Linked DNA regions of Homo sapiens. The protein of the gene in region 2 interacts with the protein of the main gene of each other region in a pairwise test. Each region holds a gene or a part of one and is shown on either strand. Other genes may lie near its edges. The genes, in order: NR2F6, BCL11A and NFAM1.

Region 1 (3,745 bases), on a different chromosome or scaffold from region 2:
GGTGCCGTGGCCGCCTCCTCGGGCAGCCCCCCGGGCTCGGCGCTGGCGGCAGTGGCGAGCGGCGGAGACCTCTTCCCGGGGCAGCCGGTGTCCGAACTGATCGCGCAGCTGCTGCGCGCTGAGCCCTACCCTGCGGCGGCCGGACGCTTCGGCGCAGGGGGCGGCGCGGCGGGCGCGGTGCTGGGCATCGACAACGTGTGCGAGCTGGCGGCGCGGCTGCTCTTCAGCACCGTGGAGTGGGCGCGCCACGCGCCCTTCTTCCCCGAGCTGCCGGTGGCCGACCAGGTGGCGCTGCTGCGCCTGAGCTGGAGCGAGCTCTTCGTGCTGAACGCGGCGCAGGCGGCGCTGCCCCTGCACACGGCGCCGCTACTGGCCGCCGCCGGCCTCCACGCCGCGCCTATGGCCGCCGAGCGCGCCGTGGCTTTCATGGACCAGGTGCGCGCCTTCCAGGAGCAGGTGGACAAGCTGGGCCGCCTGCAGGTCGACTCGGCCGAGTATGGCTGCCTCAAGGCCATCGCGCTCTTCACGCCCGGTGAGCCACGCTCCGAAGAGGGCCGCGGGATGGGGGGACCCAAGGGAGGTTAGGAGGAGGGCGGCCTGGACCCAGACTCCGGCCCCCATAGCGCCCCGCTCGCTCCCTAGGCCTGGGGCCCTGCACGCGCCGTGAGTGAACGCTCTTGGGTGGCTGTAGAGGGGTGATGTAAGCAGTGTGACACTGTGACACCCCCACTCCGTGATCCCAGGACTCTCGGAGAACTCTGAACCCCGGACCCCAGACCCAAGGCTGGGCCAGGACCAGGGCCCAGACCCCAGAACCCTCTTCCTGTTCCCAGGCTCCCTGAGACCCCTACTCCCTCACCAAAGGGCTCTTCAGGCTTAGTGAGCACTGATAGCACAAGGTTGGGGGGACGTGGGAGGGAAGGTCCTGACCCCCTGGTTCTGGCCCCCTCAGGCCCCCACTGGGCTCCCAGGGCAACCTCCAGGTAGCCAGGGTTGTAGGGATCTGGGTAGGGGCGTGGCTCGGAGGCCCCTCCCGTTGAGGGGCGGGGCAACCCCAGAACTTTCTTAACCATCAGCTATCTAGCAGTGGTAGCCCATCGTATTCCAGCGACTGGCGGTACAGCCAAATTTTTTTTTTCCACTTTATTTTTTTATTTGTATTTCCATTTTTTGAGACTGGGTCTCACCCTGTCACCCAGGCTGGAGTGCAGTTGTCCGAACACGGTTCACTGCAGCCTTGATCTCCAGGGCTCAAGCAATCCTCCCTCACACTTCAGCCTCTTGAGTAGCTGGGACCACAGGCGTGCACCACCATTCCCGGCTAATTTTTTTTTAAACGTTTTCTGTAGAGACGTGGTCTCACCGTGTTGCCTAGGCTGGTCTTGAGCTTCTGGGCGCAACCAGTCCTGCCTCAGCCACCCAAAGTGCTAGGATTACAGGCATAAGCCACCATGCCTTTAGACAAAGATCTCTCCAGCCTGTCTCCTGGGAGTTCTTTAACCTACTGGAAGTCTCTAGATCCCATCAGAGGTATCTTTGGGGCTAGGAACCAGATCCAGGCTACTCTGGGAGGTGGCTTTCATTTGATAAATATGGTTTTGGGCCTGCAAGGTGGCTCAGGCCTGTAATCACCGCACTTTAGGAAGCAGAGTTGGGAGAACCACTTGAGCCCAGGAGTTCGAGGCTCCAGTGAGCTCTGATTTTCCCACTGCACTTGAGCCTGCGCAACAGAGTGAGACCGCGTCTCAAAAATCAATAAATATGGCTTTATTTATTGTTTTCCCAGAAGATTTTTTTTTTTTTTTTTTGAGACGGAGTCTTACTCCGTCGCCCAGGCTGGAGTGCAGTAGCACGATCTCGGCTCACTGCAACCTCCGCCTCCCTGGTTCAAGCTATTCTCCTGCCTCAGCCTCCTGAGTAGCTGGGATTACAGGCACGCGTCACCACGCCTGGCTAATTTTTGTGTTTTTAGTAGAGACGGGGTTTCATCATGTTGGTCAGGCTGATCTCGAACTCCTGACCTCATGATCTGCCCGCCTCAGCCTCCCAAAGTGCTGGGATTACAGGCGTGAGCCACCGCGCCTGGCCTTCCCAGATTTCTTCTTGGCTTCCTATCTTGGGTCTCTCTCTAGAGGCTGCCACATTCTCTCACACCGTAGGCCCTTCTGGGCTCTGTCTTCCTCATCAAATTCCCTTCCCAGCCCCACCTTCCCTGCGAGCTTCCTTAGAACCCATCTCCTTGGCCTGGCTGGTGGCCCTGTAATCCCAGCACTTTGGGAGGCCGAGGTGGGGAGATTGCTTGAGGTCAGGAGTTCAAGACCAGCCTGGCCAACACAGCAAAACCCGTCTCTACTAAAAATACAAAAATTAGCTAGGCGTGGTGGAGTGTGCCTGTAATGCCAGCTACTTGTGAGGCTGCGGCAGGAGAATCACTTGAACCCGGAGGCAGAGGTTGCAGTGAGATCGTGCCACTACACTTCAGCCTGGGCGACAGTGTGAGACTCTATCTTAAAGAAAAAAAAATTAGAACCTGTCTCCCTGCCAAAGGCATGAGTTGGGTGCCAGCCACCCTTGAAACATCACTGCCTGCACCCCTATGTCACTGGTTAGATGAGAACACCTCACTATCTCTGGAGGATCGACACAGTCTTAGATAGTCCCATTTGCATCCCAGGGTCGTTTTTTGTTTTGTTTTGTTTTGTTTTGTTTTGTTTTGTTTGAGACAGGGTCTTATTACTCTGTCGCCCAGGCTGTGCTATGATCATGGATCACTGTAGCCTCAAACTCCTAGGCTCAAGAGATCCTCCCACCTCAGCCTCTTGAGGAGCTGGGACTACAAGCGTGTGCCATCACACTGGACTAATTTTTATTTTTTATTTATTTTGAGACAGGGTCTCCCTCTGTTGCCCAGGCTGGAGTGCAGTGGCACGATCTCGGCTCACTGCAACCTCCGCCTCCCAGGCTCAAGCGATCCTCCCATTAGCCTTCCGAGTAGCTGGAACTGCAGGCACGCACTACCATGCCTGGCTAATTATTCTTATTTTTAGTAGAGACGGAATATCATCATGTTGGCCAGGCTGGTCTTGAACTCCTGACCTCAAGTGATCCACCTGCCTCAGCCTCCCAAAGTGCTGGGATTACAGGCGTGAGCTACTGTGCCCAGCCCCAGCTGATTTGTTTTTGCAGAGAAGGGATCATACTATGTTGCCCTGGCTGGTCTCAAATCCTGGCCTTAAATGATGCTTCTGCCTTGGCCTCCCAAAGTGCTGGGACTGTGGCCGTGAGCCATCATGCCCGGCCCCCTGTTCTTACCCACAGTGGCGAGTGGTGTCCCCTAGTCACCCCTGTGGGCTCTGTGTTCTCTAGCTGCCTCCCACCTGTCTGACTTGCCTTTGTCCCCCTAGACGCCTGTGGCCTCTCAGACCCGGCCCACGTTGAGAGCCTGCAGGAGAAGGCGCAGGTGGCCCTCACCGAGTATGTGCGGGCGCAGTACCCGTCCCAGCCCCAGCGCTTCGGGCGCCTGCTGCTGCGGCTCCCCGCCCTGCGCGCGGTCCCTGCCTCCCTCATCTCCCAGCTGTTCTTCATGCGCCTGGTGGGGAAGACGCCCATTGAGACACTGATCAGAGACATGCTGCTGTCGGGGAGTACCTTCAACTGGCCCTACGGCTCGGGCCAGTGACCATGACGGGGCCACGTGTGCTGTGGCCAGGCCTGCAGACAGACCTCAAGGGACAGGGAATGCTGA
Region 2 (3,745 bases):
GCCAGTTTGGGAGGGGGTGAGGGGGCCACTTCTTTCTGTCCTCATTTTCTGGGTGCTCAGAGGGGGCAGGAGCCATCCCGGTCCTCAGTACCACCCCCCCGCCCCCCGCCTCTGCTATGTGGGCTGAATGAGCCATTCGGTCGCTAGGAGGCAGAACAAGATCAAGAAAGCTCAGCGAACTTGAACCTGTACCAGAGCCTCCCCCACCTCCTGCCCGGCGATTCTCGTCCGGGGAGGAACGAGCTTTGCGAGGGTGGGGGTGGGGGGAAAGAACGGTTAGGCAGAATTCCCTTTCTCTCCCCCATCACCCCGTATGTCTTTGTTCTTCATTTTGACTTTAAAAATGCTTCTGGCCGGGGCCGCGGAGAAGCGACCGGGCGCGCGGCCGACACCCCCGTGCGCGAGCTGAGACCAGCGCGCGCCGGGCTCGGAGCACGGTGCAGTTTTCGCTTTCTTTCGGGGCCGGCATTTTTGGTAGGGAGGAACCGGGAGTGCGCGCTCTAGGGCTTCGGGGCATGGCCGAAGAGGGGGATATGGCAAGTTTGCACTTGGTCTCCAGCCTCACTTCTTCCACCCCCTCACCCCCATGCAAAGCACAGACCTCGGTGGCCTCGGCTGGCTTGCTGGGCGGCTCTGCAGCCCGACACCCCCCCTCTCGCCTCGGAGCTCGGAATCACAACAATAGTAATAGTTATCATCATAATGATGCGGGCAGGCAGCGTCATTAATAATGAATAACCGCAGCCGCCGCCGCGCACACCCAGTGCCCAGAATTGCGGGGGAAATGCATTTGCAGAGATCCCCCAAAGTAAAAAGTGTAAGCTTGTGGACACAGAATGAATCTCAGGACCCGCGCTTGAGGTGTGTGCGGAGATACTGAGACTGCACCAGGTTAACCAGCCGGGTTTTCCAAACCTCACTTCCTTTTTCACCAACTGGCAGGCCCAGGGAACCGTCACCCCGCGGCCGAGCTGGCCGAGCTGGACGGGCATGGAGGCAGCAGTCAGGGCCCCTGGCTGCCCTCCGTCTCCGGGCCCCCGGGCCCCAAGGCCCCGCGGCCGCTGCTGCACGTGTTCGCAGCAAGCGCGGCGGGAGCCTGCAGCCAGCACGCTGCTCGCTTTGTGCCTCAGAGTCCCCGCGCCCAACTTCACTTTCTGCACGGTCCACCCTTGCCGGGGCCCCTGCCCCGGGCCTGTAGCCCCCGGCTTTGCTTTTGTTTCTTTGCTTTTCCTCTCTGAATTTCAGCCTCCGTTTGCTTCTTTACCCTGTTAAGACAATCAAGGAGAAGGACTTGGAAAGCAAACTTGAAGACACATCTCCCTTTCCCCCTCCCCCTCCGCTCCCCGGCAGCTCTCGTTTTGCTCGCTCCTTACCAACATTTCCTATAAGGATTATTTTTTTCCCTTAAATTTATTCTTTTGCAACTACACAGAGAGGAAAGAGATCTCAGTCTGTCACTGAGACATTGAGACGTTCCAGGCTGTCTTGCTGTTTGAACGTAGAAGCATTTTATTTTCTATTTCTTCCTCCCCTCGTAGAGAGAATTCGCGGCTAATTATTATGATTATTTGCCCACTCCCTTCCACTTCAATCGAGGACTCCCTGCTTTGTAGCCGGAGTTTAGGCCGGAGCTTAGAAATGTTGGTATTGTTGGGGCGAAGGAGGATGGAGTTGAATTGAGGGAGGGGGTAAATGGCTGAGGGTTAGGAAGGTTTTTAGGGAAAGGGGAATTTGCATTAAAATGCAGAGAAATTATCAGATGCCCAGAAAGGAAATGTTGATTGCCACTGAGAAAAGATGTCAATGCAAATCAGTAGACTACACCATGAGAATTGTATTTTCATATTTTCTTTGTGTCCCACTTTGTCTGATTTTTAATAATATACCAGCAATGATAAAAACACGTTTTGGTATTTCTCTGAACACCACTAGCCAAATGTTTTGCAAGGAGACCGATGTTAAACGTATTTCATACATTAGAATATAATTCTTGTTAATTAGCAATAATTTACGTTAAGAGCATAGAAAATGTTGAGGTTACAGGTTTTATATCTGTACATTTGATCATCTTGTTATTTTCAAGAACTTTGCCTCCTATAAAATTAATTAGGTGAAATGTGGAGGTGTAATCAGCAACCTCTGAATTACCACTTCATTTCCCGGTTTTGATTGTAAATCAGTTCAGTCACTACATTTAGAAGACTTTAACCAAGTCTGTTTTGAACCACATTACCTTTAACTATTTGATACCTAGGAGAATATTTCCTTTTGCACCTAAATAATATTCCCACTTTTAGAAATGTGTCAGACCTTGGGAACAAAAAAAAAAAAAAAAGAATCTTAACGGTGGAAATAAAAAATTTTTTTTTTTGCAAAGGTTCTATGTACTAGTAAGTTTGATAAAATATTTTCCTAAGTCTTCCTTCAGTCTGTAAACCTCAGAACTTGTAGCTAATGCTAAACAAAAAAGCCACATTTATCAATGTGTACTTAAAATCCTTAATTCAGACAACAGGAATATTTTGAGAATGAGTTCCCTATTCCTCACTTGGTCAAAATGGAAGCAAATGTAAGAGAAGAATGACATTAAGGCACAATGCAGAGGCACTTCTGTTTGTCTTCTTTTATTTGAAAAGTATGCATATGTATTCTGTATTTATCTTTTGGCCAGTATGTTGGGCAAAGAAACATAAGTGCTTACTTTACTGTCTTTATTAGTAGGAATATAACCTTCATATTCCTGTGGTGACCTTATGTTAAATTAGGAGGAGTACCAGAGGCTAGAAATTATGAGATGTCCTACTTGAGCACAGGTGCAGCTAGGCAGGGCTCTCTCAATATTATTTCACCTAGCACATCTGGGAGTTACTCCAGATCTTCCCCCTCAATATTCAGCCTGGGTAGGGTTGAAATAAATTTAACCTGAGTTCACTGGATTTTTGCACTTTATCAAAATCTGTTCCAATATTCTACACTCAAATTAAAATCTATTTTTTGATTCTCTGTGGCTTTAAGTTCATTAAATGTAAAATTGGCAGCTTGCTAAAGAAGGTCAGACTGATTAACTGTTTAAGACTTGTACATTTTCTGCTTCAGTTTTATTAACTGGCAGCATCCTGGATGTTTTGTATTTTGTGATTTTTTTTTTTTTTTTGATAGAGCAAGCATAAGATTTCACAAGCAGAGACTTACCAACTCTCTTTTCCCCTTTGGAAGCTTAAAAAATGATAGAAGCTGGTAAAGTAGATGCTGGAGTATTTTAGTACAAAGTTAAAAAAAAAAGCAAACAGGAAAGAAAGACATGTCTACCTTGTTATACCATCCGCTGGTGATTATGTGTGCAGAAATAGTCTCATAATGAAGCATTTTGGAGCTCATTCAGAAAATTAGTCCACTTTGACAACATTAGGCGAAGTATTTCAAGTCTAAAGAAAGGACTTCTCAGCCTTGCTCTGAAATGTGGTGTTTGCTTGACCATTCTGATTTTTATATCATAGATGCCACCAAGTGCAAACATGTTTAGAATATTATAGGCATTCCATTTCTCAGAATAAAAAAAAAATGACTAATTGGCTTATTTTCTTAAGTACTCAAAAGTATCCCATTTAGCTAATGTGTCTGAGAAATACTGCCCGTGCATTTGGTATTTCTTTGATTTTGTGGCACTGCTGAGAGTGAGAGCAGAAAGGTTTTTGGCAGTGTGAATTATGCTGCGACATGATTATTATTTAGATCCGTTTCATAG
Region 3 (3,745 bases), on a different chromosome or scaffold from region 2:
GGGAATTGGGGGGAAATTAAATTAAAAATGACTGTAGTTGAGACACATTGACACTAACAGGCTGCATTTCCGGGGTCTGGCCGTGTTTGCACCAACTGTCTGGGGTGTGGGGCGAGGCGTGCACAGGATTAAAGGAGATGGTGTCCTAGGGCTCTGGGCTGCAGCCTGGGGAGGTACACACAGGTCAGCCTTTGCCTCCCCAGGGTAAGTTTCCGGTGAAGAACATTCTTTACAAGTAAGAGGATCCTCTGAGCCTACTGGCCGAGGGGCCCAGCTTGGGGCTGAGGCTGGCCTGGGGCTGAGGCTGGCCTCTACTTACCGGCTAGGTCTTGAGCAAACGAACTGGCTTCCCTGGGCCTCCTTTTCCCTGTCCTTAAAATGGTGCAGGTGAGGACAATAGGAGCCCCAAGGGGTGCTGTGAGGGTGGCCAGTACGTGCCCTGCTAAGGGCTCCATAAAGCCTAATTTGTGGTCATGAGAGGGGGTGCAGCAGGACAGGGTGGGGGCAGCTCTTGAAAGCCCCATAAACTAAGAGAATAGAAAGGAAGGCACCCTGTCTCCACAGTGGAGGCCACCCCTTTGGCCAGAGGGAGGGTTGGCTGCTGCCCGGCCAAGGAGGGGCAGAGAGAATCTGGCAGAATTCACTGAGCCCTCGTGCTGGCAGCCCTGGAATGGGACCCTCCTGGGCCGTCCCTGGCCTGATGAACTGGCCCTGAGGCTACCTACCCCACAGCTTGGCTCGGATCCCGGCCACCCAGCTTCCAAGAAAGCCTGGAACCAGGAAAGGAGCGCCGCTGGCGTGGAAAGACACACTTGCATCCTAAAACACTTGGCCTCTGGTTGTGTTTCAGGAACTGGGAGGTGAGACCCTTTCTGGTGACTGACAGTTTTGTGCCTCTGGGCGCAGAGCCCTGTGGCTGGCCCTGGTATCCCCCCCTCCCCCCTCTCCCCGCTCTCCCTGGCCAATGCCAGCAACAACCCAGAGGGTAGCCCCACCACTTGCCAGGTTCAACGCAGTGTCCCCCGCAGCAGCCACGTGAGGTTCCTCGGATGGGGAGCTGTCCCTCCCCCCTGCCCCGCCCCTGGCCCCAGCCACACAGCGCCCACCCTCCTTGTTTAAGGGCCAGGAGGCCAGACTGCTGGGGCAAAGCTGTCACAGCAGCGAGGGAGAGAGCGCTGTCCCCCTCCCCTTCAAAAGCCACCTTGGCAAGGCATTAGCTAAACATCTTCTCGGTCCCAGAAGGCTTCCCCTGTGAAGTCTGCAGCGTTCAAACGACAACCAGCAAATCCCCAGAGACAGGTCCCTGGGAATTAGCTGCGCCGGGCGGGATGAAAGCCGCTCTGATGTTCTGGAGCGAGAGAGTAGAGAGAAGGAGGAAGACAGACACTACCTGCCAGTCGCAGGGTCCCGGGCAGCAGCAGCACGCCAAGGAGGAGCCAGGGGGCTGCGGGGAGCCCAGGAGGGCGTGGGAGGCCTGGCAGGGCCCGCCACCTCACAGGCTGGTTCTCCATCTGGGGGCCTGCTTGTCTGCGGCGACTCTTTAGTTCACAGGAGGGGACGGCCGGCGCTGACAGCTTCCCCTTTGCTTTCCCCACGAAGCTCCTCCCTGGCAGCCCCTGACCTTCCGCTCAGAAGCAAAGCTGGAACAGCCCAGCAGGGTGGCCGCCAGATGAGGAACCTGGCACTGAGACTGGTCCAGGCCACACAACCAGAAGAAGAGCTGGAGACGGGACCCAAGCCTCCCCACTCCAACCCCTGGTGGGCTTCACCCTGTCTCGGCCCCTTTCCAGCAGGGGCCCCGTCCAGGAGACACTGGTAACTGTGCAGAGGGATCATGGGATTTCCATGAGTGACTTCGGGCCTTGGTTTAGCCTCTCACTTCTGAAACACTTTTAAAACGACCACAAGCATGTTCACACAAACTTCTCTAAAATATTCTGAGAATCCCTTAATAATGTGTTTACCAAAGGTAGGTTTTTTGGTGAGGGGTGGTAGGGAGGCTGGGGTGAAGGGCAGGAGCCTCATGTTCCCAGCCCTAGAGAGGGCCAAACACCCAGGGCAGGTGAAAGGCAGGCTGCCCATCATTCACCCAGCGAGAACCTCTGTGGGTCCCCTGCAGAGGCCCAGGAGACGCCTCCTCTCTGGTCCATCTCTAACGTCAGCTCCTCCCTGTGGCTGCCCTAAAGCTTAGCTCACTCGGCCTCCCAACTGTGAGACCCTCGAACTGCTTCCCCATTGGCTGCAGGTCACAGCCCCTGCTCTCACTTCTAGCAGCATCAGCCGGGGACAGGAATTGTTTGCTGCCGGGACCCCCTTCCCCAGCAGACTGGGAGCCCCTCACCCTTGGCACCCACACATCTGCCTGCGTGTCTGGAGTGGCAGAGGAAAGGGGCTGGGGTGTGGTGATGGCTGGTGGAGCTGGAGGCACCTGGTACATGGAAGACGCAGGCGGGAAGGTGGCTGAGTTTCAGCGCATGCTGAGCGCTTACCTCCCTTCTCTGCAGGTGTCCCTTCACTCACCAGATAAATGTGATGATCCCAGTTGTACAAAAGAGAAGACCTCGGCCCCAGGAGGCAAAACAACATGCCTAGGATCAGGGCAGGTCTGTGGGGCGGGCATTTGAACTGCCAGTGGTATGATGTCCGAGCCTTCTCCCACCCTGCTACTGCCTGCTCAGGTGTGTCCAGCTGCAGCCCCCGGTGACGGCATCATGAGATCCATTTCAGTTCTTTGCACACATGCTTTTCCCTGGGCTGCTCCAAACATGAACAGTGAAAGCCTAAAGACGTTTCCACCAATGCCACGAGCACTGGGAGGCTGGCAAGAGCAGGGGCCGCCCACCAGGGGAGGAAGACATATGAACAGGAGAAGTTTCCTACCGCGCAGGGGGCAGGCGGGGACCCCAGTGTTATTGACTGTTGATCCATCACAGTGATACATGCTCACATATGTCACAGTGAGATGCAGACCCGCTGCTTCACGCTATTCCTGGCTCCTGGGAGTAGCAGGTTGTCTAAGCACCTTGATGCCATGGTGATAGACCTCGTGTCAATGCCTCAGGGTACACGGGGAGCATTGGAAAAGCATCGGTCTGTGCCTCTACAAGTCTCATTACGACTTGGCACTGGGAGGCAGCTGAATGCCAAACTGCCTCGGAACAAGGGAGCCTGCTCTTCCAGCCCTGGTGCCGCCTCCGCTCCTGCCCCTGTGCCAGCTCACTGACCCTACCTCTCAGCCTGTCACGGTGCCCCCCACACCCCAACTCTGTACCTCGGACTCCCGGGAGTTCTGCCGCCTCTGAGTCTGGGTCTAGCCTGCTGCACACCTGGTTTCCACGCTTGCCTGCCTGAGCTGCCTGTCTTCCTCCCCTCTCCTTCTTGAGCCTGGCCCAGGGGGTGCAGGAATGGACGGATGGGTGAGCATAAGGCAGGGAGAAGCCTTCCTCCAGGCTTGATATGAAGGCAGGTGCCCAACACCACGCTGGTGCACAAGAGGCCTCAAGGGAAGGGGTAGCCTCTGGGAGGCAGGGTGGGAGGAGGCGTGCATACTCCCCAGGCAGGCCCTGGGCTGTGGAGCGCAGACATGACTGGACAAGAAGCAGCTGAGGGTCCCAGCTCATTGCCCAGTTTCTGAGACGCTCTGCAGCCACGCAGCCTCCTGGGGAGAGGCAGGGACGCACCTTGGCAAGGAGCCCAGCAGCCCTGGCTGCGCTGTCGGGGCCTCGTGTCTGGCCCTGATCCTCCT

Evidence for each region.
Region 1: the proteins of BCL11A (region 2) and NR2F6 interact in a two-hybrid assay, tested with the Homo sapiens proteins (one study listed by BioGRID).
Region 3: the proteins of BCL11A (region 2) and NFAM1 interact in binary tests that used the Homo sapiens proteins (3 or more experiments, as listed by UniProt).

The regions. Positions count from the first base shown.
Region 1 is NC_000019.10:17,232,286-17,236,030, reverse strand, and holds part of NR2F6 (nuclear receptor subfamily 2 group F member 6), read left to right. Parts: coding exon 1-532; intron 533-3,404; coding exon 3,405-3,679; 3' UTR 3,680-3,745. UniProt on the Homo sapiens protein: Transcription factor predominantly involved in transcriptional repression.
Region 2 is NC_000002.12:60,546,921-60,550,665, reverse strand, and holds part of BCL11A (BCL11 transcription factor A), read left to right. Parts: intron 1-439; exon of another isoform or gene 440-861; intron 862-3,745. UniProt on the Homo sapiens protein: Transcription factor. Associated with the BAF SWI/SNF chromatin remodeling complex. Binds to the 5'-TGACCA-3' sequence motif in regulatory regions of target genes, including a distal promoter of the HBG1 hemoglobin subunit gamma-1 gene.
Region 3 is NC_000022.11:42,430,847-42,434,591, forward strand, and holds the start of NFAM1 (NFAT activation molecule 1 isoform 1 precursor), read right to left. Parts: upstream 1,558-3,745; 5' UTR 1,512-1,557; coding exon 1,391-1,511; intron 1-1,390. UniProt on the Homo sapiens protein: May function in immune system as a receptor which activates via the calcineurin/NFAT-signaling pathway the downstream cytokine gene promoters. Activates the transcription of IL-13 and TNF-alpha promoters.